Linked DNA regions of Homo sapiens: region 2 is linked to region 1. Evidence: fine-mapped QTL for protein levels in blood plasma. A gene starts in region 1. The other region holds a variant in brackets. All regions are shown on one strand. Distances are between the middles of the regions.

The links. PIP is the chance, under the fine-mapping model, that this variant and not a neighbour inherited with it causes the effect. Protein levels are from antibody-based Olink assays in UK Biobank. Linkage for the fine-mapping came from a reference panel and not from the study's own genotypes, which makes the PIPs less certain.
Region 2: its variant is fine-mapped to the plasma level of the ALDH1A1 protein (UK Biobank, PIP 0.97).

The regions. Positions count from the first base shown.
Region 1 is chr9:72,945,350-72,962,212 of GRCh38, reverse strand. ALDH1A1 (aldehyde dehydrogenase 1 family member A1) reads left to right here and starts at 9,160. Exons shown (of 13, transcript NM_000689.5): 1 at 9,160-9,278. The coding sequence starts at 9,213.
Region 2 is chr9:72,926,283-72,943,145 of GRCh38, reverse strand. It overlaps ALDH1A1 (aldehyde dehydrogenase 1 family member A1), which reads left to right. Exons shown (of 13, transcript NM_000689.5): 2 at 2,894-2,998; 3 at 12,127-12,267; 4 at 14,125-14,254; 5 at 15,969-16,030. Among named protein-coding and RNA genes, the nearest start is that of ALDH1A1, 18 kb to the left of the region's middle. The variant G/C (reference allele first, on the strand shown) is at 5,109.

The DNA of each region.
Region 1 (16,863 bases):
GCAAAGGACACAAACTCATCCTTTTTTATGGCTGCATAGTATTCCATGGTGTATACATGCCACGTTTTCTTTATCCAGTCTATCACTGATTGGCATTTGGATTGGTTCTAAGTCTTTGCTATTGTGAATAGTGCTGCAATAAACATACGTGTGAATGTGTCTTTATAGCAGCATGATTTATAATCCTTTGGGTATATACCCAGCAATGGGATGGCTGGGCCAAATGGTATTTCTAGTTCTAGATCCTCGAGGAATTGCCACACTGTCTTCCACAATGGTTGAACTAATTTACGCTCCCACCAACAGTGTAAAAGCATTCCTGTTTCTCCACATCCTCTCCAGCATCTGTTGTTTCCTGACTTTTTAATGATCTGCATTCTAATTGGCATGAGATGATATCTGATTGTGGTTTTGATTTGCATTTCTCTAATGACCAGTGATGATGAGCTTTCTTTCATATGTTTCTTGGCCACATAAATGTCTTCTTTGGAGAAGTGTCTGTTCATATTCTTCTCCCACTTTTTGATGGGGTTGTTCAGGTAAATTTAAGTTCTTTGTAGATTCTGGATATTAACCCTTACAAGCACTGATTTTTAACTATGAACCAGGCTACCTAGAGAAAGCTTACAATCTTTATTTACCCTTATAGCTAGGTATGGACATGAGACTAAGCTAAGGTCAATGAGCTCCAAGCTTCAGGGAAACCTCCTCAAAATGTAGATGGACCCTAGAGCTTTGTCACTTTCCTCTGAGTCCTGGAATTTAAATGTAATGGTTGGAGTTCTAGCAGTCTTCTCTTATCAGGAGGCAAAGAGCCATACCTTAGGGATGTTAGAGCAGTGAGCTGGAAGCAGCCTCTGTCTTTCCATTCTGACACCATGGCTGCCATGGACAACCTGCTTACAATCTGTTTATGTGAGAGAAGAATCCATTTCCATCTTGAATATTTATTTTGGGTTTTGCATCAGAGGCAGCCAAATTTAATCCTAACTGATCTAAAGACAAAGAGAAAGCACAAGTACATCAGTAATTACAATAGATATAAATAAAGGAGTAAATATATATACACATTAAATACATATTAAACATAAACGTTAAATAAAGACAGGTTGGATAAAAAGCAGTCCAGCTGTATGCTCTTTAAAACCTAAATCTAAAATATAAGGACACTGGAAATTTGAAAGTGTTAATTTGTTTCATTAAATAAAATTAATATTTTAACAGAAAAAAAAAAAGTCAAGAAACTGCCAATGCCTGAAGTTCGGTTGGTGTTGTTTTGTCCTAATCAGAGACAGGAAATTCAAGAAAAAGATTATGTTGCAAAAATGATAATGTGTTCCTTTAGTGGTCTTAAAATATAAAATAAAGGACTAGGTAGTAACCTAAGTGAAAGGCGACTAGAATAAATAATAGAGATAGATCGAGGTCTATGTTGGAGTGCAGTTATTCTCAAAGTTGAGCATGAATCAGAATCACCTGGAGGGCTTGTTACACCACAAATTGCTGAGCCCCACCCGAGAGTTTCTGATTCAGTAGGTCTAAGATGGGGTCAGACACTGCATTTCTAAAAGATTGCCAGTGGATGTAGTTGTTGCTCCAACTTTGAGAACCTTTACTACTCAGCTTCATGGTTGCATTATGAGGAAATGGAACCCAGAGCTGCTCCAATGATTCTGACAGCTGACCACACATTAGAATTACCTAAGGCACTTTAAACGCACTTGGGCTCAAACTACTCCTACAGAGTCAGAATCTTTTATTTTTTGTTTGTTTGTTTTGAATTCCCCAGGTGATTTTAATGTGTAGCAGAGAGGCTAAAACTATTCTTCAGGTCTTCTGACAGTTTAAGAAGTTAAAATCTGGGGTTTAAAATGTTTCTAATTTGTACAGTATTGCACAGTCCACATAAAACAAATATGCTGGCTCTCAGGTTTGCAAACCCAGCAACATGATGAGGTGTGGCATTTAGCTTAGTTATCTGACCAGCAGTTGAAATGCAAAGCCAGGGCCTGGAAGATAAATTTGGATTGTGGTCATAGATCTGGATATGTATGTATAACTTTAAAATGTGAAAACAAATTCAAGCAAGCAAATGCAAACCAAAAGTTTTATATTCTCCAAATATAATAATTACTTTAAAAAGCAAAAGCTTTCACAGAAATCGTTATTTATTGCATAATACGTTTGCAATATAATAAAGATTTATAATGCAACCAAAACTGGAAGGTTTTTAAAATGTAACTCTTTCTTCCTCTCTCACCATATAACATACTTGCTCCTTTGCTTCTGCGATGAGTAAAAGCTTTCTGAGGCTTCAACAGAAGCAGAGCAGACGCTGGTGCCATGCTTGTTCAGCCTGCAGAATTGTCAGCCAAATAAACCTCTTTAAAAGAAAATTATAACTTATCTAGTCTCAGGTATTTCTTTAAAGCAACATAAAATGCATTAACATCAAAAATTAGTACCAAGGAGTGAGGCATTTCTATAAAGATACTTGAAAATGTGAGCAGCTTTGGAACTGGGTAACAGGAAGACATTCGAAGAGTTTGTTGGGGAGGGGGTACTCGGAAGAGGACAGAAAGATGAGAGAAAGTTTGGAACCTCTTGGAAACTGGTTAAGTGATTGTGACCAAAACGCTGATAGAAATATGGACAGTGAAGACCAGGCTGATGAGGTCTCAGATGGAAATAAGGAATTTATTGGAAACTGGAGCAAAGGTTACCTTTGTTATGCCCTAGCAAAGAACCTGGCTGCATTGTGTCCATGCTGTAGGGATTTATGGAAGTTTAAACTTAAGTGTAATGACTTAGAATCTGGCAGGAAAAAATTTCTAAGCAGCAAAGCACTGAAGATGTGGCATGGCTGCTTCTAACAACCTATGATCAGATTTAGGAGCAAAGGAAAAACTTAAAGTTGTAACTTATAATTAAAAGCAAAGCAGAGTGTAAAAATTCAGAAAATTTTCAGCCTGAACATGTGGTAGAGAAGGAAAGAGCATTTTCGGGAGAAGAATCCACCAGCTGGAGGAAAAACCACTTGCTAGAGAGATTTGCATAACTAAAAGGGAGCCAAGTGCTAATATTCAAGACAAGGAGAGAAAGGCCTCAAAGCCATTTCAAAGCCCTCCCACCACAGACCCAGAGGCTTAGGAAGGAAGAGTGGTTCTCGGGGTCAGATTCAGAGCCCTGCTGCCCTACACTACCTTGGGACATTGCTCCCCATACCAGGCCTCTCTGGCTCTAGCCTTGGCTCAAAAGGCTTTAGACACTGCTCTGGCCACTGCTTCAGAGGATGAAACCATAAGGCTTGGCAGCTTCCATGCAATGTTAAGTCTGCAGGTATTCAGACTGGTGCCCAGGCAGGAACCTGATGCAGGGGCAGAGCTCCCACATAGGACTTCTACTAGAGAAGTGCTAAGTGGAAATGGGGTTAGAGCCCCAAACAGAGTCCTCACCAGGGCATTGCCTAGTGGAGCTGTAGGAATGGGGCCACTGCCCTCTAGGCCCAGAATGGGAGCGCCGCCAGCAGCCTGTACTCTGAGCCTGGAAATGCTGCAGGCATTCACTCCAGCCCTTGCAAACAGCCATGTGGGTTGTGCCCAGCAAAGCCATGGGGACAGGGCTACCAGAGGCCTCAGGACCACATTTCTCACACCAGAATGCTGAGCATGGAGTCAAGGATTACGCTGGAGCTTTAAGGTTTAACAACTACCCTGATGGATTTTGAACTTGTGTAGGTCCCATTGCCCCTTTCTTTTGGCCAATTTCTCCCTTTTGGAATGGGAATGTTTACCAAGTGCCTGTACTACCATTGTATATTGGAAGTAAACAACTTGTTTATTATTTTACAGACTCACAGGTAAAAGAAACTTGCCTTGAGTCTCAGATGAGGCTTGAGACTTCGAACTTTTGAGTTGATGCTGGAACAAGCTAGGATTCTGGAGGACTATTGAAAAGGAATGATGTATTTTGCCATGTGAGAAGAACATGAGATTTGGGGGAACTGGGGCAGAATAATATATTTTGGATGTTTTTCCCCCACAAATCTTATGTTGAAATGTAATCTCCAGTGCTGAAGGTGGGGTCTAGTGGGAGGTGTTTGTGTCATGCAGGTGGATCTCTCATGAATGACTTGGTGCTCTCCCCACGGTAATAAATTTACAGGAGAGCTGGTTATAAGAAGAGCCTGACACATTTCCCCCTCTCTCTTGCTCCCTCTCTCTCCATGTGACATATATGCTCCCCCTTTGCCTTCTGCCATGAGTAAAAGCTTCCGGAGGCTTCACCAGAAGCTGAGCAGATGCTGGTGCCATGCTTGTACAGCCTACAGAAACATGAGCCAAATAAACCTCTTTCTCATCTTTACTCTCTCTATATATACACATACATATATATACATAAATATATATGTATATAAAATATATAAAACACCTGATGAGTTTTTCATTGTAAGGTACAGATAGAAAGCTTACCTTTATTTAAATTAGAATATTTAGATAGTAACAATAAACCTGAATGACACAAAGAATGACGGGTGCATGATCAATGACAACATATACATTTTGACACCTATGAACTTGAACTTTTATTGATTAGTGCATTAGTTTCCAATGGCTGCTGTAACAGTTATAAACTTGGCGGTTTAAAACAACACTTTTAGAAGCCAGAGATCTGAAATCAGTTTCACTGGCCAATATCAAAGGAGTGGACAGGTCAGGCTCTCTCCAGAGATTCTAGGAAAGAATCCATTGTCTTATGTTTTCCAGTTTATAGAGCTTTATTCTTTAATTATTTGTCTTCTGGTCCCCTTCAATAGCTTCAAAATATTGATTCATTGCCAGGGCAGGGGTGGTAAGAAAAGTTGTTTATATGAAAATTAAACTGAATATATTACAAACAATATCATCAAATTTCTAAACACATTGTTGGATAATCTGCATGAGAATTATAAAAAAAAAAAAAAGAAAAAATTGTGGAAATCTCAAAGTAGTCTACATTTTGATTGACTCATTGATGTCTTTCATGTCTTTCTTTCTACACATTAAGGAAGCAAACTGGAAACTAGACAAAACACTATGAGTACTATTTATGCAAGATTATTTCAAATTCCAAGCAGCAAATCCAGTTCCAAGAAATGGCCTCAACCCATAAGGTTTAGCAAAAACCTATTTAAACTCAAATAATTATCTTACAGAGGCTTTAATGTACTGTTTCTTTTAGTGACCTTACTAATCAGTTAGTGTCCTGGTTAGACCAGATTAGAGGGGCATCTATCCTATCTCAGTAACACAAGCCAAAGAGAAGAACAATGAAAAGATATGTAAAGAGCAGGAGAAATCAGAGGTGAGGAAATTTTTCCAATTGAAGAAGAATGGCATGTGAACAGAAATTAGTCAACAAATACATATGTTCATATACTTGAATTCTGCCTTCCACTTCCATTTTTAACATCAACTTGTCAACTAAGTACAGACTCTCTCACTACATACAAGATCCACTTTTCCCAAATTATTAAAACTCAAATAAGCATAAGAGCAATGTGGTATCTGATAAAAATGTAGTAATCAAAAGCATAGGGATAGATTTCTTGCTAGGTTTACCAACAGGCAGACATGCTAAGGCAACAGAGAATAGTTAGGGGAGTGGTCATGTAACTGGAGTAGGAGAGGTTCATCTTCAATAAATGGTTCCAGCATCTTGAAATCAGGAAATATGAAAAGAAACTGTCTTAGTTCATTCAGGCTGCTATAACAAAAATTAATTTCTCACAGTTCTGGAAGCTTGAAGTCTGAAATTAGGGTGCCAACATAGTTGGGTTCTGGTGAGAGCCCTCTTTTGGGTTACAGATTGCCAATGTCTCATTGCATCCACACATGGCAGAAACAGCGAGAGATCTCTCTGGAGTCCCTTTTATAAAAGCACTGATCCATTCATGAGGGTCCTACCCTCATAACCTCATTACCTCCTAATATGATTTGGCTCTGTGTTCCCACCCAAATCTCACCTTGAATTGTAGTTCCCATAATCCCCACATGTCATGGGAGGGATCCGGTGGGATGTACTTTAATCATGGAGGGGGGTTACCGTCATCCTGTTCTCATGATAATAAGTGAATTCTCATGAGATCTGATGGTTTTATAAGGGGGTTTTCCCCCTTTTGCTGAGCACTTCTCCTTGCTGCCACCATGTGAAGAAGGACGTGTTTGCTTCCCCTTCCACTGTGATTGTAAGTTTCCTAAGGCCTCCCCAGCCATGCTGAACTGTGAGTCAATTAAACCTCTTTCCTTTATAAATTACCCAGTCTCAAGTATGTCTTTATTAGTAGCATGGGAATGGACTAATACACCTCCCAAAGGCTCCATCTCCTAATACCATCACATGGGGGGTTAGGATTTCAACATATCCATTGTGACTGGACAAAAAAAATTCAGTCCATTGCAGAAGCTATTTTTAATTCATCATATGACTTTTTTCAACATTTTTTTAAAAATTTTAAGTCCTGGGTGGCAGATTAGGTTCCTTTTATCTTTTCAGGAACTGAGGATTGGACGGAGTTCTGGAGATGTTTGTTGTAAAATGAAAGAGTAGTTTCAAGAATGGTTGAAGTCATAATCTATATGTTTCTTGGTATAATGAAAGCTTTCACAAATGGCTGGAGAAGTCAAATTCAAGAGATGAATAAACTATCCTCTTATGTTTCTTGCTTCTCTCTCCATATGTGTGTGTGCCTGTGTGTGTGTGTGTGTGTGATTTAGTTTGTTCATAAGGAGGAAAAAGAAGATGAAACATCATTTGTCGATTACTCTCAAGTTAAAGGGACAGCTCCTCCTCTGCTGCATAGTCCTGGCATACCATAAAAACGTACAATCCTGGGTCCAGTTCTAAAATGTGCAACCTTGGTCCCTAGGTTCTCACAAAAGCCATTATTTCCTCTGTAAGGAATAGAAGTAGTCTGATGAAATCTTTTCCTCATATGCAGCAATTCCCAGAAATATGCTATTCTACAAAATAAGCTCTCAGGGCAGGATGATGTTTACCTCAAAAATATAGGTCTCAGGCCCTGTGGTTTCTAGGCAGAAAAGATCTGCTTAAGTGAGGTTAGGGCTAAAGAATTATGGATGCATAAATGATACTTAGTAAATATTTGCTGAAATTAAATGGGCAGGTGTGGTAACCTGTCTCCAAAGCAACTCCTTTTGCCTACATTCAGGAATGCCTGGTATAAAGGGACTGTTCTTACATAATTATCCAATAAAATACAATTGAGAATGATCATATAAGAAGTGAGATGACAAGCCAAGTATGTTATGAAGCCTTGAGCTTTCATCGCCTGGACATCAAATAAACCAGTATTTGAATCCACAAACAACTGTGACTCTGGGAGAAGAAAGCAGCAAAACACAGCTGTTTGGGCATGGCCAGAGCGCCACTCTCAAGTTATGTAACAGCTGTTGTGTAATTGTGCATTTAACTCAAAACACATTTTTGAGAGAGAAAACAATTAGACTTTCCAAAAAGAAAGAAACAGAGAAATGTTGAAAGAACACAGAAGTTTCTATCTGGTCATCAAACATAAGACACGGGGGAGTCAAAGGCATTGGGAATGATATTGCCTTAGAATCTAGGGAGTTGGCCCGTGCACCAAATCTGGCCTGCCTTCTGTCTTTTTAAATAAAGTTCTATAGGAAAACAACTACACCCATTAATTTACCTATCATCTACAGTTTCTTTTAAATAGAGTCAAGTAAATTATATCAGAAACCATCCAGCCCAGAGGCTGAAAATATTTACAGAAAAAGTTTTGCAAATTCTTGTCTTAGATGAATAAAAAGTTATGTTTAAATGCCTGTAAGGGTGACTATTCACTGAGAAAACCAAAGCAGTTGATGCTTGAACCCATGTAGGAGTTCTCTTGTGGAGAATAGGGTAGAAATAGTAAACAGAAATAAGAGTCCAGGTTTGGGAGTCAGACTGGCCTGAAATGAAATTCTGGTCCTGCACTAATAGATCTGTGACCATAAGTAAGCTACTCACCCTCTGTATGTCTCTAAAATGGGGATATGAAATGAGGGTAGAAAGGGAAACAAGTGCTGCACCTGATTTGGGCAAACAATTCAGAAATTTTTAGTTTCCCTATGTAAGTCCCATATTCAGGGGAATTGGCAAGTTTCACTAGAAAAAAAAAAATTGGTTGATTCTCCACAATCAGAGCATCCAGAGTATTTTATCTTGTTCCTATTGTAACGTTTGCTAGAGCTACAATACAATAAAGTATTGTACTTAAAATGGGAGTAACACTGTTTAAAAAATTGTCCTTCAGCTAAATATTAATTTAAGAACTTGAATTGTTTGGAAGCCCTGCTTAAATTTAGTCTTTGTACACTGCCTATGTTGATAAATACAGACAACTTCCAAAACCAGGATTACTTTCATTTTAAATGAGTATTAATAGATGATATTGCCATATTTCTAATTGTGGTGATTGTGTGTGACAGTGTGTTCCGAATTCCCTAAAAGTCCTGCTGGCTTTTCTGTTCACATATAGAAAATAAAGATAATTTAGGGCTTCTGAGATCACAGTAGGTCTACTTACCCAGCACTGAAAATACACAAGACTGATACGATATTTTAAAACTAACTTAGGGTAGGGTGTAGATAAAGGGCCTTTCTTCCCCAAACAGCACCTTGATTTTCTGGGAGATGGACTGATTTCCTGAAAGCCTTGTCCTGAAGACACCTGGCCAGCTTCTACTGAGAACAAGTGCCCTTTTAGACTCTTTTCAATCCTCAAATTCTCTGATTCCAAGTCTGTCAGAGAACAGAAAGTTACATAGTAGCATTAAAAAGCATGAGAAGTCAAAAAAATAATAACTGGCCTTAGTGGCCAGAGCAGCTGCTGCATACACTTATCACAGGTTTCGGCTTTGTAAATTAATTCATCTGCAAATAGTGCACTGTCTCCAGGTACAAATTCGATGCTGGAGCACTGGTTTCTTAAGGATTTAAGTTTAAAGTCAAAGGCTTCCTGCCCTAGGTGTTACAAATAAGTAGTGTCGTTTTCTTTTTTTGCTCTGAGTTTGTTCATCCAATCGTATCCGAGTATGCAAATAAACTTTAGCCCGTGCAGATAAAAAAGGAACAAATAAAGCCAAGTGCTCTATCAGAACCAAATTGCTGAGCCAGTCACCTGTGTTCCAGGAGCCGAATCAGAAATGTCATCCTCAGGCACGCCAGACTTACCTGTCCTACTCACCGATTTGAAGATTCAATATACTAAGGTGAGTAAAACTTCTATTTTCTGCTTTGACTCGGGTTTGCAAAAACTGCATTTATGTAAAGCATTAAAGGTCAATTTAAGTAAACTTGTGTAAAGAGCCCTTTGCAAATATAAAAATAAAAGGCATGCAAAATGCAGGTCTCAGTTTAGTGTCCTGATCAAATATGATCTAAATCATATCAGACAATCTTTCATAAATTTATTTCTTAAAATATTTCCAAGCGAAAGGAATTCTCTTCTGTGTGAAAGGATTCTTATACCAGGATTCAGAGGACTTTACTAAGCACTTCTATTAACTTCACTATAGCCGGCATGTATGATAAGAGAGCAAAATACTCACTAGAGAAGCTTACTGGAAAGAACCAAACGAGTAGGAACAATAGAAAGCAAACAAGGAGAAAGAGAGCATACTGAAATAACATAACTTTCCAATATGTTTAATAAAATGAGTGTTAAAATAGGGGGACTTAAGTCTGATAATTGGATTCGAAAATCTTCAGATGGACTTGCATTATTTTGCATATTTTGGTGGGAGGAAGAAAAGCATTATTTCTTCAGCCAAGTTTGTTGCCATTGGAGCAGATGTGTAATTGTTAACTGATAAATATTTAGAGAAACAAGAGCAGGAGCTAGATCCAGACTTTAAAATCCGCAGCTGGGGGGAACTAGGAAATGGATCCTGCTTGAGTCGTTCTGAGAGTAACTCTGAACTTTGCCTGTTTCACACTGCTTTCCTGTCAGATCCTAGAACTCCAAAACAAACAAATGAATAAAACACAATCTAACCAAAATTACTTGAAGTTATCTTTATGGTGTGATGCAGAAAGTATGGTAAGAAATTAACTCTTGCAAATCAAGAGAGAGCCATTTTGCTGTCTGAATTAGCCAACAGAAAAACAAAGGGCATTATAATTTAATGATAAAGTAAAAGTCCCCACTGTTATATATTTATTTCCTCACTTGTAACCATGGATGGCTTTGAAATCCCAAGGTCTGTTGCATTTTCATTTTCATAAAGCACAACAAATGAGGAAGTTGCTCAGCTGATTGGCTCTTTTCCTCAGGAAAGTAGCAGCAGAGATCAGATTGTGCCTTTAACATGGTTGACCAGCAGCTATGAAGTGTATTTTAAGGTATTGTTATCACGAGGTTTTGTTAAAGAGGAAAGATTTTTTCCATTTAGTTTTACTACAAATGGTAGCATGAAAAATGCAGTAAATCCATACCGTCAAACAATTTACATTTGGCAAAGGTATGTCCAAAAGGTTGCAAGAGTCCAGTCTCCCTCATTTTCTTATTCCAAGTTTGTCATTCACAAGAAATTTCAATTGAAAGTGGGTACATTTAAAAATACATTTCATGAAGCTCAAAATTGTCGACAATGCTCAGATTATTGTATTACTATTATTAATGGGATTTTTTTTTTAATAATACTACCTAGGAAGATATTTTGGTAGTCTGGATGCCCCTGTCTCCCCACTCCTTTGGCTTTGCAGAAGTTTGCAAAGTCTTCCTTGTGTGTGTATTTCAAGGAAGCTCTAATGTAAATAACCTTCCTGCTAAATTAAGCTTCACTTAGTAGTCATTAACTAAGCATGTAAGAAGCGGTACTAGACAAATGAGATGGTCCTAAAAATCTAACATACAAGCACAGACCTAATGAACCCTTAACACAGAGAGATGATTTTGAGATTGAAACCTATTCACTTCGAAGTCACTGTGCAACAACTCCCCTCTAGGGAAAGTGACTGACCTAAGTGTCCAAAAGAAGGCAAGACTCAAAGAGCAGGCGTTTTGCTCTGTGTTTAAGAACTTTTCTGGGTAAAAATACTCCAAACAAGTCAGTGAATTTTGATTTCTCGTGCATCTTCTATATAAATCTGTTCTGCTCAGATAGCATTTTATTGTTTAATTTATTGGTTACAGCGTTTTCACACTTGGGAGGACGCCAGTTATGTATGTAATTAAATCTAAATGGGTGAACTTTTTCAAATGCCTTCGCATTTTTTGTTTACTATGTCCCAGTGAAGAATTGGATTGAATTTGCTCTTGCAAGAGGAGTTAAAAAAAAAAATGATGGTTATTAACTATAAAAAGTTCCCTGGTTACAAACCAAGTAAGCAAGGAGTTTATAGTGTCTGAGGAATTATCTTCTATTACCAGCCCCTAAAGTCTTGTGTTATTTTTCTGTTACTATTCTAATGTCCTTTTTTATTATTATTATAGCTAGAAGTATATTGGTTGTTAGGACAAGTTGGAGAGAACAGACAGGGTTGAGTAAAAAAAAAAATATTACAACTACGATAGAAAAGCTACATACTCTCAAGCTTGGGACTGCTTTTCACCCAAACAAAAGAATTTATTGATGCATATGTTTTTATGACTTATTTTCTAGTACAGTCTGATTATTTCTTTGTTGGGGTAGATTAAAGAGAGATCAGAGTTTAAGAAATGCTTTCTAAAATTATACAAAAGCTTTTGGAATTTAAAACCTCAAAAACATCGCTATAAATTCACTAATATGAACTCATATCCCATCCTTATCCTCATTACTCCTCTTTCCAACTCTAAATGAACCCCACATTTTCCATTTTATTGAGCCTTTAAATGAAGAGATTCTTTGAAAGTTATGTGATCATTGGGCAAGCTACATTACTTCTCTCTGCCTCGGTTTTCTTATGTTTAAAATGGGGATGATAAAGGCACGTATTTTCTAAGGTCGATGAAAGTATTAAACGAACTTAATGCGTACAAAGCCCTTGAAATAATGCCTGGACATGGGAAATGATTTAACGTTAGTGATCCTAGTCCTATTTTTCTGAATCCTTTCCAGTTTTTCCAGAATATTCCCTTTTACCCAACCTTTCCTAGACCTGTTTCCTACAAGTATGCCTCACGTCTTCTCCTAGCTTTTCTGTCACTCTTTTTTGTACAGTCATGTCCCATCTGACAAAGATTGCATCAGAGTGAAGTTCCAAGGGTCTTCCAAGATTTCAGGGATCAAAAATTTTCTCCTACAGGATTCGGTAACTTTGTTTGCCATTCTCTCTTCACAATACTGTTGTTTTACCTTTTCTTTTTTCTTTTTTTTTTTTTATAAAAGGGAAATAGGAAATTCAAGAAGACAAGCATTCTCAGACAGAATTCAAACGCCAAAATGTTTAACTTAATTAGTAAGCTTCACTTATTAAACCATGGTTTGTTCATGCTACAAAAGACCTTCATCAGCTAATGACATTTTACTCATACATACACACACACACACACACACGCACACACACACACACAATAAATAATTATAGGTAAAATTTATTGTGCTTACTCTGCCATGACTGTTTAAGTTCTTGACAATGATTTTATTTACTCCTCATAATAACCCTATGAGGAGGTTACTATTCCTGTTTCACAGTTCAGGGAACTGAGGAACAGAGCGGCTATGTAACTTACTAAAGTTACACAGCAAGTAAGTGACAAAGCTACACTGCCAATGCTGGCAGTTTGAGCTAACACACTAGCAAGAGACTTGTCTAAGGTCAATTCCACTACTCTGGGACACTGACTTGCCAGAATCCTCTTGTATCCTTCTTCATCCTGACTTTCATTTGCCCATTGCTGATTACCATGGTCTTTCCAGCTGCTGCTCAGCTGTTCCCAGGCCAATAAGAGAAAGTTTGCAGCCAACTTAGAAAAAGAGAACAATAGGGAAATTGAAAGGAAATAGGTTTTCTGCTTTGACTGAAAATGTGACGTTTGGGCTAGGAGAGGCTATGAGGCAGAGGACTTTGACATGGATGTGAAATGTCTGTGTGAACTACATTTCTTCAACTCCTATGGAATCGATTTTGGTTAGAGTAGGAGATTGCTTTCCTAGATTTCTGGTTTTGTTTAACCCTTCTGGGTTAAAGAGATATTTTCAATGGAGAAGAGTTATGAATCATTGAATAATACGTCCCAGGCACGATTTGAAGTGCTTCTTTTCCCCCATGATTATCTCTTTAAATTCTTACAACAAACAAATTCAGCTACATGAACTTCCAAATACCTCCTTTGTCCCCTTTGCTTGTTTCTCCCTTTTGCTTTTCGTTTCTCCCATATTTCCCTTCCTCTTATTTAACAAGGCCTTGAATGAGTGCCCTATGCTAGTTCTCATGATATAAGAGGGCTAATATGATTCACGTCTCATGCAGCCTCTGTTCCTGGAAGGTGTGTGGAATAGTGTGGGGCAGAAAATAAGAGAATGCTTTAATCAGAAATTAGGATAAATGTTTAAAGCAAAATAACTGAAAGCTGAGAGGATATGAGTAGAAGAGCTTTTGATGAGGATTTTTGGGAAGGTGCTTTAAAGGTAAGCCTGAGGGATGTAGAGAATAAGGTGGCCAAGAGTAGGGAAGAACAAAGATCCAGAGGTCTTACCACATGCAAAGACCCCGAGGACAAGAGCATGTTATGCTCAAAGAACTATCCAAAGGCTAATCTGGCTGGAGTAAAGTGAATAAGGGAGAGAATGGATGAGATGAAACTGAAGTACAGGCTGGGGCCAGATCGGCTGGCGGATTTTGAGGAAGATCACTGAGAGGTGCTTAAAACAGGAAAGGACTTATGTTCAACGCAAAGCTGATTGTGCTGTGATGCTGCTTTCACTTGGGAAATGTTTTTAACTTCCTTCCAACTGAAGCAATATTTTGTTTGCTTTGGGCTTGGAAGCAGGTGAAAAAAATAGCTGACTGGCTGCAAGGTGCAGTGACTGAACAAGCTAAACCTGGCTTCAATTTCCAGCTATTCTATGTATTTAATTATATGACCTTGGCCAAGCTTCTCATCCCCTGGAGCTTCAGTTCCTCTGTCTGTGAATTGGGAATGAGAATGACTACCTTGGAAAGTGGCTGTGAGAATTAAGTGAGGTAATTTGTGGAATGTGGCTGGCACTTATTAACTACTTAGTCCTTTCTCTCCTTGATTCTCTTTCCCAAGATGACTCCTAGAATTATATGATCATTCTGTTCTCAATGTAAGTTATATTTATATTGCTTATCACAGCTCAAAACTGATTTCATATATTTCTCTCATTTGAGGTGCATCATTAACCACTGAGAGGAGCTAGAAAAGATGTTAGCAGAGTCCCATTTCAAAGCTGAGGAGCCCGAGCTCAGAGATCATGACTGACTTAAGGTCACATAGCTCTTAAAATGCAAAAGTAGAATAAACTGGATTCTAAATCTTTTTATCTTGGATCTGATGCTTTCCCACATGATATCCTTTTTTCCTTAAATATCAAAACCAGTAGTACTAGAATCTCACTCAAGAAAACCTAATCAAGAAAAAAATCTGAAGTAAATAACACATATCCTAAGAGAAGAGGGTATTATCCCCCTTTCCCAATTAGCTCTAACAACTGTTTTCACACCTATTACTGCATTTTTATCATTCATTCCTTACTGTGGTTGAAAGAATAGATCTAGGCTGAAGTCTGAGATTCTGTGTTCTTAACAGTCTTTCAGCTTTTGCTGATGCTACCAAAATGTCTGTTGACCAGCAGCAAGGGTCTAAAAGTTTTAGGTGAGTGAGCCTTATAACTTCAATGCAGCAACCACCTTCCAGTTACTTCACAATAGAGCTTCCAGTTTCTTCCAGAAACTAGCACTCAGCCACATCAGAAACTTTCCTTTCAGAAAGTGCCAGAGCTAAGCAGAAACATGATGATGGCTACAAACCAGTGACAGAACCAATCATTGATTTTAATAGTGGGAGATAATCATTTACTAATATTTAGAATGCTCATCTCTGAGGACTGCTGTCTTGGCAAGTTGTTTTGTTTTCTGGCACCTGCCTGACTGTAAGAAAATGGAATTAACAATTCTAAAGTAAAGAACACATGTCCTAAGAGAGGGTATTGTCCCCATTTCATAAGGGCTCTCAGTACAACTCTTTATATAACTTTGTAACAGGGACTTTAACCTATTGAATTTGTCACTACATACTTGCCAGAATGAGGGAAACACTCTTAGAGAATATGAAAAATAACTCATTTGAAGACCAACCCAAAGTAAAGGTAATGACTCTGAAATGGCATGGATAATCTATAGGATGATATGTTGCAAATCAGCATAAAATAAATCTCACAGAAATACAGACATCAAACAGAGATATCTGAAAATAGCAATTATCTGGCTTGGGATGGTGGTGTGGGGGGGTGCACTTTGGTTTGATTTATCATGATGCTATTATAACTATAGCCAGGGGATATATTATATGTTTACAAAGTGTAAGTGACAACATAGAACCATGTTCAAAAGAATTTGAGCAAGGATTGCTTCACAAACCCTTACTTAGAATCCAATAAATCAGAAAAGTAAATCTGTGTAATACTGGTTTTCCTGACGCTGACATGTTTTGGGTGTATAGATGTATATAGCAAAAGTATCCACAAACTTAGAAGCATTGCTTGAGAAGGATGTGAAGTGTTGCTAATATTGGGTTTTCTGATATTATCTCTACCTGATTCATTGTAACGTTTGACTTACTAATGGAAATTTGTTCACTGGGGAATTTGCACAAATCTCACATCTCTAAAAACTTTGCCTGAACCGTTCCCTCCCCCAACCCTGGTCCCATTTCCACTGACTATTTCCACTGCTCTATCGATACTTTTTTAGATGTCAAAGGAATACAAATAACTACTGAATTATGCTTTATATTTGGCATTCTTTTAGAAGGAAGAGGGCTTACATGCGAGCAATTCTATTACTAGGTCTTGATACTGCTAAAAATGGGCAGAACTTTCTATCGCTTCTACATCTTAACTCTGATACAGAAAATATATGATGTACAGAAGTTGCTGACAAGTTTTGTTATCATCTCTAGGACACAGTGATGGAGTGGCTCAAAACAAATGCTGTGGCATCTTTTCTCTTTCCCTGACACAATTGAAAAGGCTGATGGGGTTTTGCAAACAACAAGAAAAAAGAGTATATACTCACGTTACTAAAGTCAGACTATCATTTAAAACAAATGAAAGGAAAATTTTATTTCTCCTATTTTTTGTTTTCGTCATTCTGTCATTTTGTTTTCATTCATTTGATGACAGTTAAAAATTTTCTTTCCCTTTGTTATTTCCTCCTTAATTTCCTTTTACATTTTCTAACTTTGAGTCTCAACATTTTGCTTTCCTGCCTCAGGGTTAGGGTGCAAAGCAGTTGCCAGAGATCCAGCTTTGATTCTTTTAAATGTTTAACACCCCACCTGACTTTTGTTCAGTCTCTCCTCCTCATTATTCATCTCCGATCTCATACTCCCTGACTCCCAGCGGCCTTTAGTACTTTGGTAGGTTCCTAAGCTGAGAAAAGGTTGACACATTTACAGCACACACCAGTCTCCACAGGTTCACACCACCACCCATGCAGCCTATGCTGTGACTCAGTTCTCAAGTTTGAAAATTCACATGGATGACATTAAATGGGGACTCTCATCACCCTCCCTCTCGTTTGGAAAATCTTAAAAGAAATTCTTTGTGCATTGAAAATGTGATCTCTTAAAATCTCTCTCCCACCAAGAAAGTATTGCCTTCCTTTACAGACTCTAGGGCTGCT
Region 2 (16,863 bases), 19 kb after region 1:
CCAAAATGAAATCTGTGTTCCCTTAGTTTACAGGTACAAAATCTAAGGTGGTAATACAATCTTTAGGCAGAGAGAAGGCAGAATTCCCAAGTGAATAAATCTGATGCAGGTTTTGAAAGACTGATTTAAAAGTCTACGGCAGGTATCGCAATATCTTTAGTTTTTTGTTTGGAATTTTATGGGCTGATATGTAGATATCTAACATTAACACAAAGCAGAACATAAGTAATTTATCAGTAGGATACTAACATGTTATGTTGGAAAGAAGAAAAAAGAGATTAAATTCAATTGGAGCAACTAGTCAAATCTTCATGAGGAGATGACGCAGTAAGCTAGAATTTGAAGTAAAAATAGAAGAAAATAGTGGAACTCTAGTCTAAAGAACAGTGTGAATAAAAGCATGCTGCAAAAAACAGCATGGTGTTTGAGGCAGTAGAATGAGGCTGGAACAAAGGGTAAACTGAGGGAATGGTAGAGCAAAAGACTGGAAAAGCATGTTGGAGCAAGATCGTGAACCACCTCCAGTGCCATGTTAAGCAGTCTGACAATAGAGGATCACTAAAGTATTCTGAGGAGGGCTGTAGACAGAATCTGAGGAAGATTATGATGACAAGGTGAAAATTAAATTTTAATTAGGCAGAGGTAGGGGGCAAAGAGAACAGGGAAAGCTTTTTTATACTTGTATAGAACAAAGTGATACAAAAGGGTACCTAGGGATTATTTGTGTCATTAACAGAAGAAGGAAAGTGTGTGAGAGATAGGGCTGGGGGACAGTGTGCATGAGCAAGCTTCAGAACTTTGGGGTGAGAGCAGCATAAAGCTAGAGATGACAGTGAGCTGAGTTCGGGACAAGTTGATTAAGTTCTTTCCCAGCCATCCCTTGAGAAGAAAAATACTAAGCTGTAAGGGCATAAATGGAAACACTCTAAGAATAATTATGGGATTCTGTAAAATGTATTTCTGATAGCTAGAGTGTTGATTCACTCTAAGAGACATTGGGCAAATCAGCACTTTCGTCTGAATTTATTTTTCCTCAAGTTGATCTAAGAGCCTAGTGTTTTTTCCCAAAAGATAATACAATGAATTTTATGGTCTTCATCTGTATTCAGTTAATCTTGTTTCTGTAATCTGATAGGGTTTCTTGATACTTCTTCCATCTTTCTCATTTCCCCATATATGTATTTTTGCACATCTAGTCTCTTCATCTGAACAGCTTTGGGCCCCTTTTCCCTTTATTTAGGCATGCCCATGTGTTTTACCATCAATTTCAGGCTAGTACTACAATTCCTTTGAATGCTTCTAACTATACAGGATAATTTTCTTGTATGGAAATAATGCTGTTTTCTTGTATGGAAAATTATATTGGCATGAATGGGCAAACAAGACGGCTTATCCTCTTCCCCATTTTGTAGGAAATCACAAGTGTCATAGAGTATTCATTTGCAGAACGTTATAGATCTTATCCATGAGTAGCTGATGGATTATAGATCTTTGATTCAATTAAGTTAGTTATTCAAGAATTTTTTACTGAGGCTAAAATTGCTTGAGGGCTGTTGGACACTGAAGATAGACTGGAAAACCATACACAGCCCTTGATGGAAGGCAGACACTTAAAAATGACTATTTAAAAAGTGACAAATTGTCCAATGGAAGTATAGAGGAGACCAGGGAAGTATATTTTGTCTAAATAATAAATCACAGAATATAGAATGAATTATATTCAGGCATTTAGGGATATATAGTAATATACATTTTATTACTCTGATAGAATTTTAAGCTATGCTAGTGATCACCGGGGAATTTTTAATAAATAAGTAATTTGCATTTAGCATAGTAGCTAATTTAAACCTTGGAGGAGTGTTTCATTACATTCTCCCTCGGGGTTGAACTATTAATAACTTATCTTTAGATATCCAGTAAGAAGGGATGTCTGAATTAGGATATATGTTATAATCCAGCACATATGTCACCTTCCTTTACTCCCTGTGTTAGCTACCTCTGATTCAAAATAGAATAAACTAGTCCATCTTGTCATAAGTCTAACAGAAAGTTATATACTATCCAAGACTGTATTTATGATTGTTTTCATATTTCAAATAATTAGAAATGTGAAAGCTGGCTCCTCAAGAAAAGACAAATTCAGTGACATGAAAGTTGAAACTGAGATGTTTTAAATGACATACTGATGCTTTTAAGTATTTCTATTTTATAGTACACACAGACAAAATTTCATATTTTTTAGTGCTTACTGTTTCTTTAGTTGCATGTCTATTTCTCATAGTTACCATTAAGAAATCTTGTTCCTGATTTTGTCTGAAGACAACGAAATTACCAGGTAATCTTTTGAAAAGGAGAATAAAACCATATGCTTTTAAAAAGCCAATGAAACAATGTGACTAGCTAATTTTCTCTAAGTGAACTCCTTTTAGAATCCTTTAGCAAAATTCTTTTTTTAACTTTAAAACATTAAAGGATTAGAAAATAGTCTCTTATGATTCCAAATCACCAGTAGCCGAAAATGAGGATGTTCAGAATTTAAAGTGGAAAATAGAAGCAATCATTAATAAAGACCAAGCCCACAAAAGCCTTTGCTTTGCCTCAAATTCATGGCCATTTCAGGTAAAAGCATTGTTTTCTAGATTGTTTTCTCCAGTATGTATTTTCTAGTGTTGAACTGATTGCATACCTTAAACTTAAAAGCATTATGTACTTCATTTTAGTACATGTCTATGCATGTGAACACAAAATGTCTCAAACAGCCAGAAAGTTTTGAGAGGTGAAGAGATGTGCATCATTTAGGCATGGTGAAATGCTTTAGTTTAAGTTTATGAAAACTTCCAAAATTTTCTGCATATTTAAGCGCCTTGTATGTATTTTCTCTTCATCTCTACAGATCTTCATAAACAATGAATGGCATGATTCAGTGAGTGGCAAGAAATTTCCTGTCTTTAATCCTGCAACTGAGGAGGAGCTCTGCCAGGTAGAAGAAGGAGATAAGGTGAGTTTCTGAACACTAGTTTCATTTTATGCCAGGTTTCTTGGTTTTTTGCCATTCTGAGCTCCTGAACCCCATTGCAAGCTCCAAAAGACATGCCATGAAAATATGGTTTCTGGGGCAGCTTAGGAAAATTGTCTAAGTTGTCCTTGTTACCAAAAAAAAAAAAAATGCTCTGTAGTTATGTAATAATGATAAACCTGTGCTTCTGGGTGTCATGGTGATTTTTTTTCACATCATTTTCCTTTATTTTCAATTGAAATAGTATATAGATTTATTTTACAGACTATATAAGAAGGGATTGATCATAGGTTATAAAGTAGAGAAATCTTCAGCTGGGCGCTGTGGCTCACACCTGTAATCCCAGCACTTTGTGAGACCAAGGCAGTTGGATCACTTGAGGTCACGAGTTCGAGACCAGCCTGGCCAACATGGGGAAACACCGTCTCTACTAAAAATACAAAAATTAGCCAGGCATGGTGGCACATGCCTCTAATCCCAGCTACTCAGGAGGCTGAGGCAGGAGAATTGCTTTAGCCCGTGAGGCAGAGGTTGCAGTGAGCCGAGATCATACCACTGCACTCCAGCCAAAAAAAAAAAGAAAAGGAAAAAGGAGAGAAATGCTTTATTCATATGAAATTGTTCTTTTTATGTTGCTAGATAAAACTAAAAGTTATTATAGAACTTTTAGAACAATATATTACTAAGTTATTTTATTAAAAATCACTGCATTAATATTATTATTCAACACCTGTAAAAATTATATTATAGAATAACTTAAATTGACTAACAAATTACAAGCGTTGTTATTTTCCAGCTAATAATAGAAACAACAAAAACCAGTTTTTATTTAGTGAAAATTGTTCTCAAGTTCTAAATGCTATCTTCATTTAAAACTTAAAGCAACCCTATAGGGCAGGTACTATTTTGAGTCATTTTTACAAATAATGATGAGATGGCAGAGTAGAAAGGCTGAGTAATTTACTCAAGGTGACATTGCTAATAAGTAATAACCTCAACATTAAAATGCTGTTCCTCTGACACTATAACCTGTGCCTAGTAGGGCTACTGCTTCACTTTGTGATTATTATGAAAGTAAGATAGGGTTGGCCGGGCGCAGTGGCTCTCACCTGTAATCCCAGCACTTTGGGAGGCCGAGGCGGGCAGATGATCTGAGGTCAGGAGTTTGAGACCAACCTGACCAACATGGTGAAACCCCACCTCTACTAAAAATACAAAAATTAGCTGGGCATGGTGGTGGGTTCCTGTAATCCCAGCTACTGGGGAGGCTGACGCAGGATAATTGCTTGAACCCGGGGGTCAGAGGTTGCAGTGAGCCAAGATAGTGCCATTGCACTCCAGCCTGGGCAACAAGAGTGAAGCTCCATTAAAAAAAAAAAATTAAATAGTCTTTCTTATTATGAAAGTAAGATATCCCAGCACTTTGGGAGGCTGAGGCGGGCAGATCACAAGGTCAAGAGATTGAGACCATTCTGGCCAACATGGTGAAACCTCGTCTCTACTGAAAATACAAAAATTAGCTGGGCATGGTGGCGCATGCCTGTAATTTCAGCTACTCGGGAGGCTGAGGTAGGAGAATCACTTGAACCCGGGAGGCAGAGCTTGCAGTGAGCCGAGATCGCATCATTGCAGTCCAGCTGGGTGACAAGAGCGAAACTCCGTCTCAAAAAATAAAAAATAAAAAATTAGATAGCATAATATTAAATAAACTTTTTATTCTCCTCCTGGGTGAGGAGAGTAAAAAACTTCAGAATATTTTTCTGAACACGTAAGTGTTTCTAAGTCTAATTTGAAATGATTTTTCTGCTCTTTAGTTGCCCAGGGGTTGCCAAGTTTTAAATTTCTGTAAAGAAGTAATGTTTTATTTTATTTTATTATTATTATTATTGCTGCAGGAAAAGACTACTGGGAAATTAAAGTCAGCAACACCCAAGGATAATATTATTCATGACAATGTGTTTTAGTTAATTATAGCGATCACATGTTCCTGCCAGTCTCCTGCCCAGTCTTTTCCATTACTTTAGCCCCAGTAAATGAGATCACAAATCTCAACGTACTGGGCCATGCAGATACTTATTCCAAGATAGTGACA[G/C]ACCTGAGGGGGCCCTTTTAGATTTAGGAGAGGCCCTTGGTTCAGATTTCAGTATGATGAAAACAAGTAAGACCGAAGTCTCAAGCCACAGGAGTACGGAGTTCAACCATAGGGGTTAACAATTTGAGAAGTAGAAACAAAATAAAATGATGACAAATGTCACTGGCTTTCAGATTCAGATTTACTCTTTATACTGAAGAGTTCACCAAAGCATAAATTCTCCATTCTGCTTCTCACTGTCTGTGGGAAAAAGTGCACAAACAAAGGTCCTTTATAATATTACTCAACCTTTGTTTATGGCCTCTTTCCCAGGCCACCGCATTAACTTAAGACTTTCAACTTCGTCATGCCCAGTGTCCATCCCCAACAATTGCTTGCTAGTCACTGCCTCTGTACATGTCCACAGTGTAGTCCTCAGGACCTAGTTCAAGTCACCATCTATAGTAAGAGCGTAGATTTTCAATGTTTGTACTTAACCTTCTTTGAGATTCTGTTCTTTTTCATGTAAAATGAGGAGATAGAAAATGCTTGAGGAGTTAAATATATAGAGCTCTTCAACGGTGCCAGGCATATCCTAAACCTTCAGTCATGCCCGGGTTTTATACTTATTTAAAGCCTTCTCTAACCTTCTCAAGCAGACTTACTCTCTTCTGTGTGGTTATAGGACATTGTATTTGCCTGTATTATAACCTTTGTATTATACAGCTATAGGTTAATTTGTCTGAGACAATATGCTTCTTGCAGAGATCAACACTGCATCTCTCATTTATATCCTTGGTTTCTGGATATAGTATATCCTATAAGTATGCTATACTATATTCGATAGATATACTATACTATAGATATAGTATATTCTATAAATCTATGAAGTAGTCTTCTTTTTCATCAAGTGTTGAATTTCCATACATTCCACATTCCTCACCTTAGGAATTTAGTACTAACCTGACTATTGGCTATGGCAGACATTCTCAAAATTTAGCCTGTCTCAGAATGTCCAGGAAGGCTTGTTAAAACACAGATAGCTGAGCCCCACCTTCCCCTAGGTTTCACTGCAATAATCTTAGAATGGGACCTGAAAATTTTCATTTTTTATCAATTCTTTGGTAATGCTGATGTTGTTGGTTGGGAAGGAGGTGAGGGAATGCATCTTGAACCACCGAACTAAAGTGTTAAGCTGTTAAGTTGTATCTCCTCTCAAGCGTTAACATTTAACAGGGGTCAAAGAGTTTTGACACCTAAGAAAGTTAGTGATTGAAAACTGTACTGTGGTGATCACTCTGCACCTCTCTGAAATGCTACCAAACCAAAATTGGGCATAGAAATACTGATCATCCCTGGCAAGGTCTATAGGAGCCCCAGAAGCCTGTGCCCTATAAGCCATTCCCAGAAATAAGAGAGAAATTTATTCTTCACCTTTCAAAGAAGAATGAACGCCTTTTATCAGAGACTTCAGGAGATCCACACACCACCACCTCAAATGTTCCTCTAGTTGCTTGAGTGGCTCTAGCAGGCCTGGGAAGGTGAGAAAAGCAATAAAGGGCAAGGACAGAGTGAGCCCTTGAGAGCTACATACTTTCTCTCTCCATTCAAGAGGAAGGCCAGATCTGTTTGCAGTTTGCAACTAACAAACAGAAAAATATTATTGATGTTTTAGTTCTGGAGCCTTGAACATCGACCTTTGCCACTGGGATTAATTTTATTAGGAAAACAAATCTCTATGCCCAAAGTTCCAGTTGAAACCTTGTCAGGCAGTCTGAGGACTTTTCTTAGTGAAGTTTGTGGGATTTACCTCCTTCCTAAAGTATAGTAAGGGAAAGCTAATGATCATACTGGAAGACTTAGAAATGTTTGCCACTGATTTGCTCTGTGCTTCTTGACAATTACTATTGCTTACCCAAGAGATCAAGGATGCTCATTAACATCTACCCAAGCTTCAAATCAGGTCACAATGCCAACTGAGTTGGCTGGTCAACTGGTTACTAAAACTAAAATGTTGATGGTATAAACTGTTCATGGTAAACCAGTTTGAACATCTAGCACTCTTATCATCACATTCTTTTTTGAATTATTTTAAAACATATTTTTAAATAATTATTGCTCTTCCCACAATTTTGCCGACAAATGTATAGTAAACTCCGACATTGCTTAGTGAAAGGTACAAATCTAGTAAATTACATAGTCACAGTAAACCTAATATGCTGTATCTGACTCTGTAGATAATGAGCCAAGAGGTTTTAGGGATTTAATTTGTAAGTAGAATGGGGCTAACAATGGGCTACATACCGCCTTTCAACGGTATTATAAAGAAAAGAGGAAGGGCAAGAACAAATGGAGGTTACAAAGCAAAGTACAGATGTGGGTGGGAACTGTTTTCTTTTCACTTCAGTGGTTCTTTTAGGCTATATTGACTAATCCTGAAAACTGCTTTTAATACTAAGGCATGACCTAACAAATAATTGGTGGGGATAAAAGTAAATGTCCGTTAAAGTAAGTGCCTTTGACATGTGTAAAAGTAAAACTGGTCTGATAACTATTTTCTCCATCTCTGAATGAATTTAATATGGAAATGTACCATCTGGGAGTGATGGAAGAGTTCAGTCCTTCCTTAACTGTGCTTTAGGAGGCATTTGATATCTCATCATCATTTGAACTGTCTTTTTACATTCAGCTTGTGGCCCTTACTTCAAAAAAAGGAGCATTTTCAGTGCTATAAGCAAAATTGTTATTGATGGTGGCAAATCTGAGTTAATGTACCAAATTGTTTTCTGTTTAATTAAAAAATTATATCCCTGAAAATTCCAGTTCTGAAATAAAAATTTAAAAAATGCTAGTCCTGGAATTAAGAAAACAATAACTGTTATGTCTAACAGTTTTTGAATAATGTATAAGTTTTGTTGTATCATGGAATCTATTAAAATATGATTTATTATGTAAATGCCAATGTAGTTAAATTAATTATGTAAGGCACCCCTTATATAAAATCAGTACAACATGATGAGTTTATAAAACAGGTAACCAAATTATTCAAAATTTATTTATTGCCCATTGTAGACCCAGAATTGTAAGAAATATTACAGTTTACAAAACAAATAGCAGTATATATTTGTTGCAAAGGAGGTCATTATTAGGGCAGCCTTACAGAGATGTAAGAACTAGATTTTGTAGTCAGATGTGGGATCAAAGGTTGATTCTACTGTCTGCTAGATTTCATATCCATGAGCCATAGTCTATTCATTTATAAACCAAGGCTCATGATACTTAATAGTAATAGTAACTATGGGGCTTTAAAGAACTTTCCTTAGTGCCTGGAGCTTAGTAGGCTCTTAGCTAGTAGCCATCATCAAGCTGGACTAGTCTGGCAAGGTTTTAGGTAGATTGATATTTGAGCTGGGTCTTAAAGTATATATAGGATTTAGAAAGTAAGGGAGTATACTGGTATAATATTCTAGGCAAGGAGAACTACAGACACAAAAGTAAGAAGGAGTTGGGTCAGATAGAGTAGAAAAAATGTAAACACTAAGTTTGGATAGGTGAGATGTGGTCTGAAAATCCTGGGCCTTGAAAACCAGGGAGGACTTTGACCTTGAGATTGTAGATGAAAGGGAACAGGTGTAAACATTTGAAAGACAAAGTGATAAGATAAAATTATTTGCAGAAGATTAGCCTGGTGATAGTAGCCAAGATAGTTTGAGGAGAGAAGAGAATGAACTTGAGACAGCATTGACAATATGAAATAATAGGGCCTAAAATTGTTCAGAGCAGTGAAAACTGAAAGGAAGGATTAAAATACATTAGAACTTGCTAGGTGCAGCAATACACACCTATAATCCCTGTGTGCCTGTAATCCCACCACGTTGGAAGGCAAAGGCAGCCAGGTTGCTTGAACCCAGGAATTTTAGACCAGCTTTGACAACATGGCAAAACCCCATCTCTACAAAAAAATTAGGCAGACGGTGGCTCATGCCTGCAATCATAGCACTTCGGAAGGTCAAGGTGAGAGGATCACTTGAGCCCAGGGGTTTGAGACCAGCCTGGACAACATAGCAAGACCTCATCTTTACTAAAAATAAACAATTAGATGGGCATGGTGATGCACTCCTGTAGTCCCAGCTACTCCAGAGGCTGAGGTGGGAGGATCACCTGAGGCTCGTCAGGAGGTCTAGGCTTTGGTGAGCCATGTTTGTGCCACTGCACACCAGCCTAGGCAACAGAGTGAATCTCCCTCTATTGAGAGAGGGAGAAATTGCTGAGAGTTATATTAAAATTTAAAGTTTTAACTGCTAGGACAACAGTAACAATTGCCACCATTGAATAATACATAATGTTCTAACATAGAAAATGTTTAAATGTTATCTTATTAATCTTCATTACAACCCTGTGAGGTAACATACCCCAATTTCTTTTTTCTTTTGTCTTGCTTTTTCTTTTTTTTTTTTTTTTTTTTTGTTTTGAGATGAGGGTCTTACTCTATCACCCAGGCTGGAGTGCAGTGGTGCAATCTCAGCTCACTGCAACCTGCACCTCTCAGGTTCAAACGATCCTCCCACTTCAGCCTCCTGGGTAGCTGGGACTACAGGCACACGCCACCACACCAAGCAACATACCTTGATTTTAAAGAAAAGAAAGCTGAACCTTAGAGAAGTCATGCCACAACATATTTCATGGTTTATAATAATGTTTTGGGATAGTGATTTGATTGTATGTCTCTCCCATTTGATTGAATATTCCAAAAGGACAATCTTCTTACTTCACTCTGCTGTCTTTAGCGGAGGGATGATGAGAATGCTGCAGAGTCGAATATTTATCAAACCTTTAGCTAGAGGGATGAATGGTTAGATGCCTCAAGGTTTACACAGCTAATGAAGAGGAATCAGAATTCAAATCTGGGTTGTTTTCATATCAAACTATATATTAACTAACATTACTGTATTTCTGCATCTGCAAGATTACATATAAGATGTGAGAAAAGGGGGCGCATGATCCAAAGGACATAATCATAAGAACATCTTTATTTATAGCAGCATTCTTTAGGGATGTGCTTTCCATATGGGAGAGTTACTTATCTTGAAGCCAGTTCTCCGTATCCCTTTGGGAGGCCAAGATCCCTATGATAGCCCATATTTGGCTAAGACCAATAGCAGGACACTGAACAGAAAGATCCAAATGAAAGCTGTGTCATACAGATCTGTTTAAACACAGACCAGCATGTATTTTATAAGCTCTGGTATCCACAGATCATGCTGACAATCTCAGATTTTTGTGGTTTGCTTTTTCTTTTTTTCAAACAGTGCTCTGTAAATTTAGGAAAAAGTTAGAACGTGTGGCATGAAACAATGTCTAAATATAAGCAATCAATGTGATTAACTGAATGCCGCAAATATGCACTGTATATGTATTTCTCAGGAAAGGCAGGCAATAAATACATATATTTTGTATATATCATCATTCTCTGAAAAGTTAGACAGTGAGATATATCAGTGTGTGATGTATTACACTGAAAGAATCTTTGCTTGTAGTCAGTAAATATTATTACTTAATCAGACCAGATTGTGCTTCTAAAATATCTCTCTTGCCCCAGATCATATTATTTTGGTGATAAATACTAGAAGAATAGTTTTTTTGTATTTTAATTCACAGACTTGTAAGTGTGGGTCTTCTTGATTGAATATAGCCTAAGGAGGAGGATGTTAATTTGAGGTCCATTTGAGGGGAAGATATCTCCTTAGATGGGATTTAGCTTAATTGTGTACAATTTTTTAAAAAAATCTAGGGTCATTACTTTTTCTCTCCCCCAATTCTTAAAGGGAATTGTGTCTCCTGCAAAATATTGCAACCTACTGGCCTGTGATATAGCCACTATTTGTGGAGCTATACAATTCCATGTAGTGGCCAGTTCTATGTACAAAAGAACACTGGAATGATATATTCCTTTATGGTGTTTGCAGTAGTAGTAGGTATGTTCTGTAAGAGCTCAGAAGAGGTCTGAACAGGGATCTGCAGGGGAGTGGAGTGGTCAGGGCAATATTTGTAACTGAGGTGAATTGCAAAAGAACCAGAGAATATATCTGGTGTAGAAAAACACAACAGAGAAAGAAATTGAGTGAAGGCACTATGAGAGTGAAGGACAGGAGGCTACACTGAATGTGGAGTCACTTTACTCTTTGACTTTTACTTGAATTAATGTAGTTTTAAGCCATGCATCTTTAATAAGAAACTGACTTCTTTATCGGATTAGGGATTTAAAAGGATCTCTTTGTACCCAGTTGGGAAATGAGAGGTTGTCACATGCACATCCTACTCTATTAGTTCCACTATTTCCATGCCCTGTTCCCTCTGCACAAGAGGAATGAGCACATGTTTCTAAGGTTTATTCTTCAACAGCAAAGCAAAGTTCTTATTCACCCTTCAATAGGCTCTTCATGAAAGTGGACAGGCTGTTGAGTCACCAGAGACCAAGGAAGATATTCATTATTTTGGATCTTGAGCTTGACCTGGAATTCCTGTAACCCAGTCACTAAGAAAGTATAATGTGTGGTAAACAGCAAAGATTCTACAATCAGATGGGCTCCCTTTAAAACTCAGTTCAGCCACTTTTAGTTATTAACCTTGAGCAAAGCTCCCGTCTCTCTTTGCTTTAGTTTCTTCATCTGTAAAACAGGGAACATATTTGTGCCATAAAATTAATGAGAATTAAATGAGCTAATAGGTATAAAGTCATCAGAACATTACTTGAAACAGGGCAAGCACTCAGATGATAGCAACTATTAAAATCATAAAACACTTATATTCTAGGAAATCCAGCATGTGCTAGGTACGTGGAGCTCATCATGTAAAGATTATTCAGCAGGAGTAATTCCAACATACAGTAGTTGAATGTGCGCAATGTGTTAGACTTTGGGATAATGGAGACACAGTGCCTGCTTATGAGGCACTACAGTCTATTTTACAGGGTTATTGGCATTAAATTTGCTTGCCTAATATGTTTAGCTTACTGAATTGAATTCCTGTTGACTTACAGGAGGATGTTGACAAGGCAGTGAAGGCCGCAAGACAGGCTTTTCAGATTGGATCCCCGTGGCGTACTATGGATGCTTCCGAGAGGGGGCGACTATTATACAAGTTGGCTGATTTAATCGAAAGAGATCGTCTGCTGCTGGCGGTGAGTATTATCCAAGCTGGATGGGTAGCTAGAGCTCTCAAAAGCATTCAGCGTTTGAAATGGCAAGTTGTTTTGATTTTAGGGATCACTATATGCTCTCTACAAACAAAATGAAAACATTTTTTGTCCCAATGAATAGGCCCCTTAACATTGAACTATTCTCAAATAGTAATCTGCATTTCAATTCTGGATGATGTTAATTTCTGCTCCCATAATAGATTCTACGGTCTAAACTTTAGCAAACCCAAGTTAAACCAAATTTTAGAAATTTCTTTACCTTAAAACTTCTCAGAGGTTTCAATAAGATCACATGAAGTTTGAGTCTCCTAGAATGATATATTAGGTTTATTCAAGCATTTGACCACTGAGCTCTTTTGATGGAAAAACTCAAGTTTGTTAAGGGTGCCCAAAATATTTCTCTAAAATAAATCTTATTTCTCATTAGTCTAGCTCGCTAAGATATTTAATAAATGGCTACTTTTTTTCTTCCTGAAATGTGTCTGTTCACAAGGGTCATAATTAAATGATGTTCTTTTTACAGATGAAAGAGGCAAAAAATAAAAAAAATCCAATTATTAATGTGGTTTATCAAAATCATGTTTTTATGAATACTATTTTTGTTTGTTTATGTTTTAGCAGTTAGATGAGTCAGAGCATAATATAGTTGGGGGAGGGTATTTCCTTGTTTCTGTTGTCTCAATTGGGCATTATGATGAAGCCAATTTAACATAAACAAATACCAAGATCAGGTTTCAAGCAAATTTCATCTTTAGAATCTGAAAGTGGCAGTAACAAAGAAGTCTACATTTTTAAAAAATCAACATTAGCATGTATGGTTAATAGCAAGTATGGTTAATCAAAGGACCATTTATTACTCAAATATTCAACATAATTTGAAATACACAAAAATTCAGAACGAGCAGCTATGTGCAATAAAACTATAGTAATAAAAATGACCTGTAGGAAGAAAGCAGAAAATGCTAAAACTTGGCTTTTCTCAATTATCTGATTTGTTGACTGCCTGTCAGCATAAGATCCTATAGAGAGAAAAGTACAGGCATACAAAAGTCACATTTGGTTAAATTTTGACATGATAGAGAGTGTAGTACAGAAACAAATAGCTTTAACAGTTCATCACCTGTGCATTTCTGCCAGGTAACCACCCCAGCAGAATATTAGATCTCAAAGAGCTTAAGGTCCTGCTTAAGAAGAGAAGCCAAAGGGGAGATAGGTCATCTTATAATGGTTAGGGCACATGACTAGAAAATGTTTAACTTTACCTGACCATTAAAACGGCAATTATGACAATAATGGCAACACTGGTAGTTTCCTAATTAAAATTCTGCTGAAGGAAATTCATGGATGAAAAATCCAGGCATTACTTAAGTTTGTGTGAGTAGACTGTGTATATCCAGATGGAATGTAAAAATTAAAAATGATTACTGAGCCATCATTAATAGTCACTGACACTAAGTTGTCACCCACAGTTGATTACAAAATAAGAGAAACCTTGTTGGAATTCTGATAGGACTTAGAAGACTAGGTTTCATTCTCAGATGTTATGTGTATATCAAATTGTGACCGATTCCTAGAAAGCTGGTTAGCAGGAGAACATCAAAATGAGATAGAAAGAGCACTGGGGTTTAGAAATCAGAATCTCACTACCCTTTGTGCCCAGATCTTGCTATTTGACCTAAAGGAAGTCATTTTAACTCTTAAAAAGTGGAGGTTAGACAAGATGACAAGATTTCTTCTATTTCAAAAATTCCCTAGCACATGATTGCTGAAAATATTTACTACATATTTTTAATCTAAAACTTATGGAATTTTAGATTTGGTGTTTGACATGTTTTTCAGACAATGGAGTCAATGAATGGTGGAAAACTCTATTCCAATGCATATCTGAATGATTTAGCAGGCTGCATCAAAACATTGCGCTACTGTGCAGGTTGGGCTGACAAGATCCAGGGCCGTACAATACCAATTGGTAAGTATCTTTGAGAAACCACTAATGGTGAGGATAGGAGCGAGGAGTTTACTATAGAGCTGAATAATTTCAAACTCTCCCTTTTAAAGATGTCAACCAAATAAGGCAAAATTATTTTCCTCTTGACTTTGAGACAACACAGTTTTCAACTTAGAAGTTCTATTAAAATTCATAAAAGGTCTTTTAAAGTTGTTTCAGCATAATCATGAAGATAACATTATAGATATTTTAGAAAATGTCAAAGTAAGAACATTCCTTTGGCAGTAATTACTGATCTGAGGCAATTGCCTCTCTAAGGTCCCAAACTTTTTAAAGCTGACCTCTGAAATTATTTATTTGGGTTTTATTCCAATACTGACATTTATATCCTTTCTGTAATGTAATTATTTAAGCCTCTTTACATGTTCCAGTATAAGTCAGTTATGGTCATCTGTGCCTGGTCAAACTCAGTGTAGTTAGACCAGACTAATCAAACAAGCCAGTTCACACGGACTCGTTTCAAATATCTTCAAAGCAAGATGGGACTGTGTTTGCAGCCTAAGTTAAGGGTTTGTGTGTGTGAATCTGTACGTATGTGTTATTTTAGTGGGGTATGCACATAATGGAGTAGAAATACTAAAGATATTTCATGTGAAACATGAAAACACACACATTTAGGAAACAGTATGGGTGGAATTTAATTCAGGCAAACCTATGAACTTTAGGAATACAATACCCTCCAGGACTGGCCCTGATGTGCACTTCCAATCCAATTGGAGCATGCAGGAGGTCAGAAGTGATAGCAGAAAGTTGAGAGGAGAGTAAGACCTCGGTGGTACTAAGAAATGTGGCTACTTTAGAACTGTCCTACTTTACTCCGGGACAAAATGGGAGAAGTCACTTAAAACACAAATAGATCTTGATGAAGAGAGTCCTTGCTGAAACCAGGAAGCTTCTGTGGGAACTAGAACAGAATTGAATGTAAAGCATAATGTATCTCTCTGGATGACCACATTAAACTTCGGGGCACATAAATTGGTCAAATTTAGATTGAAAATAAATGTCTTATACTCCTGTCATTTTCTTCATGTATTTAGAGAATTTGCTATTATTGTTTGGTAGGCAAATAAAATACATTTTAGAACAAGTCAGTAGGAAAGGCTTATTACTCATAGGGAGATTTTCTTTTTAATTCTACTGTTTTTAATTTTACTATTTCTAAAAATTATATTATAACTTTTAAAAAGAATTCTCTTATTGGTAGAACTTTGAGCTACCAGAAACAAATTGGAATGTGGTTCTTCTCTTCGCCAGAGACCTCCTACTTCCTTTCTCGTCCCTTTTTTATAACACTTAGAGAATAAAGATAATTTTCAAATCAGGCCTCCTAGAAGATGAAAGGTGGAATTAATTATCTTTCAGATTTTTGCCAATTTTGCCTCTTTGATTTCACCTAACTCAATTTTATGGTTCCTATCATTTCGAATTACTATTTTAGGGCTTCACTTACCATTTTGGGAATAGTTGGAGATATAGATGGTCTCGATCTCTTGACCTCGTGATCTGCCTGCCTCGGCCTCCCAAAGTGCTGGGATTACAGGCGTGAGCCACCACACCTGGCCAGATATATGTTTTTAAAATTATTGTCTACACCTTTCTCTCACATCACCAACCACCATTTTGTGAATGTCAAATACATTTGTTTATATATGATTGTGTGTGTTTTATTTTTCAGATGGAAATTTTTTTACATATACAAGACATGAACCTATTGGTGTATGTGGCCAAATCATTCCTGTAAGCTTTTCTCCTATATAATTCTCAATTTTAAAAAGAAGAGTTCTTATTCTATCTAATGATGAAGCTTTCTCTAAAACAGATGGATGCTTATGTATTTGTTAAATGTGGAGTAAATGTAAGATTTGTTGAACTTGGTCTCCCTGTGACTAAACTTCTTGCATATGAATTAGGTAGTCCGAAAACCTATCTATATTCTGGCATATCTCTTGAGAATGTTTTAATACTACATCATCCATAAATGTTAACCCTTTACTCTATGGGTTGTTTTATTAAAAGTTGTATTATGTACTCTTTATAAGAGCCAAGCTTTACATGTATATGGCAAGGTGCTCTCCACTGCACATCTGCAGGATAGCATTTTGGTGGAATGTAGTGGGGCCTACTATTCTCCAACGCACTTTCTCATTGAGACATCTCATCATGCAGAACAGTAGCTCCCAGAGTGTTCAACTCATGACACACATTTTTTAATCAAAATGGAAAAAAGAATACCAGAGGCATTTGAAGCACTGCATGGAATATATTTTACCTTTAGATAAGAGGCTCAGATCCTCCATATTACTCTTAGAGGAAAGTAGCCTTTTTAAGAGGATTGTGAAGATTTTTTAAGCCCAACAAACAGGACACTATCTAAATGATTTTATTTTAACTGACATGCTTTAAAAGGCCAAACAAAAAAATGGTAGCGAAGTCCTTATGTGAAGAAATGGTCAAGACTTATCTTTGGCTCCAATGAGATTGAAATATATTCATATCAATATTTTAGTGAAATTGCTTATTAATTCAAAAGTCCCAATAAATCGATAAAAACTATATAATTATGAACACTG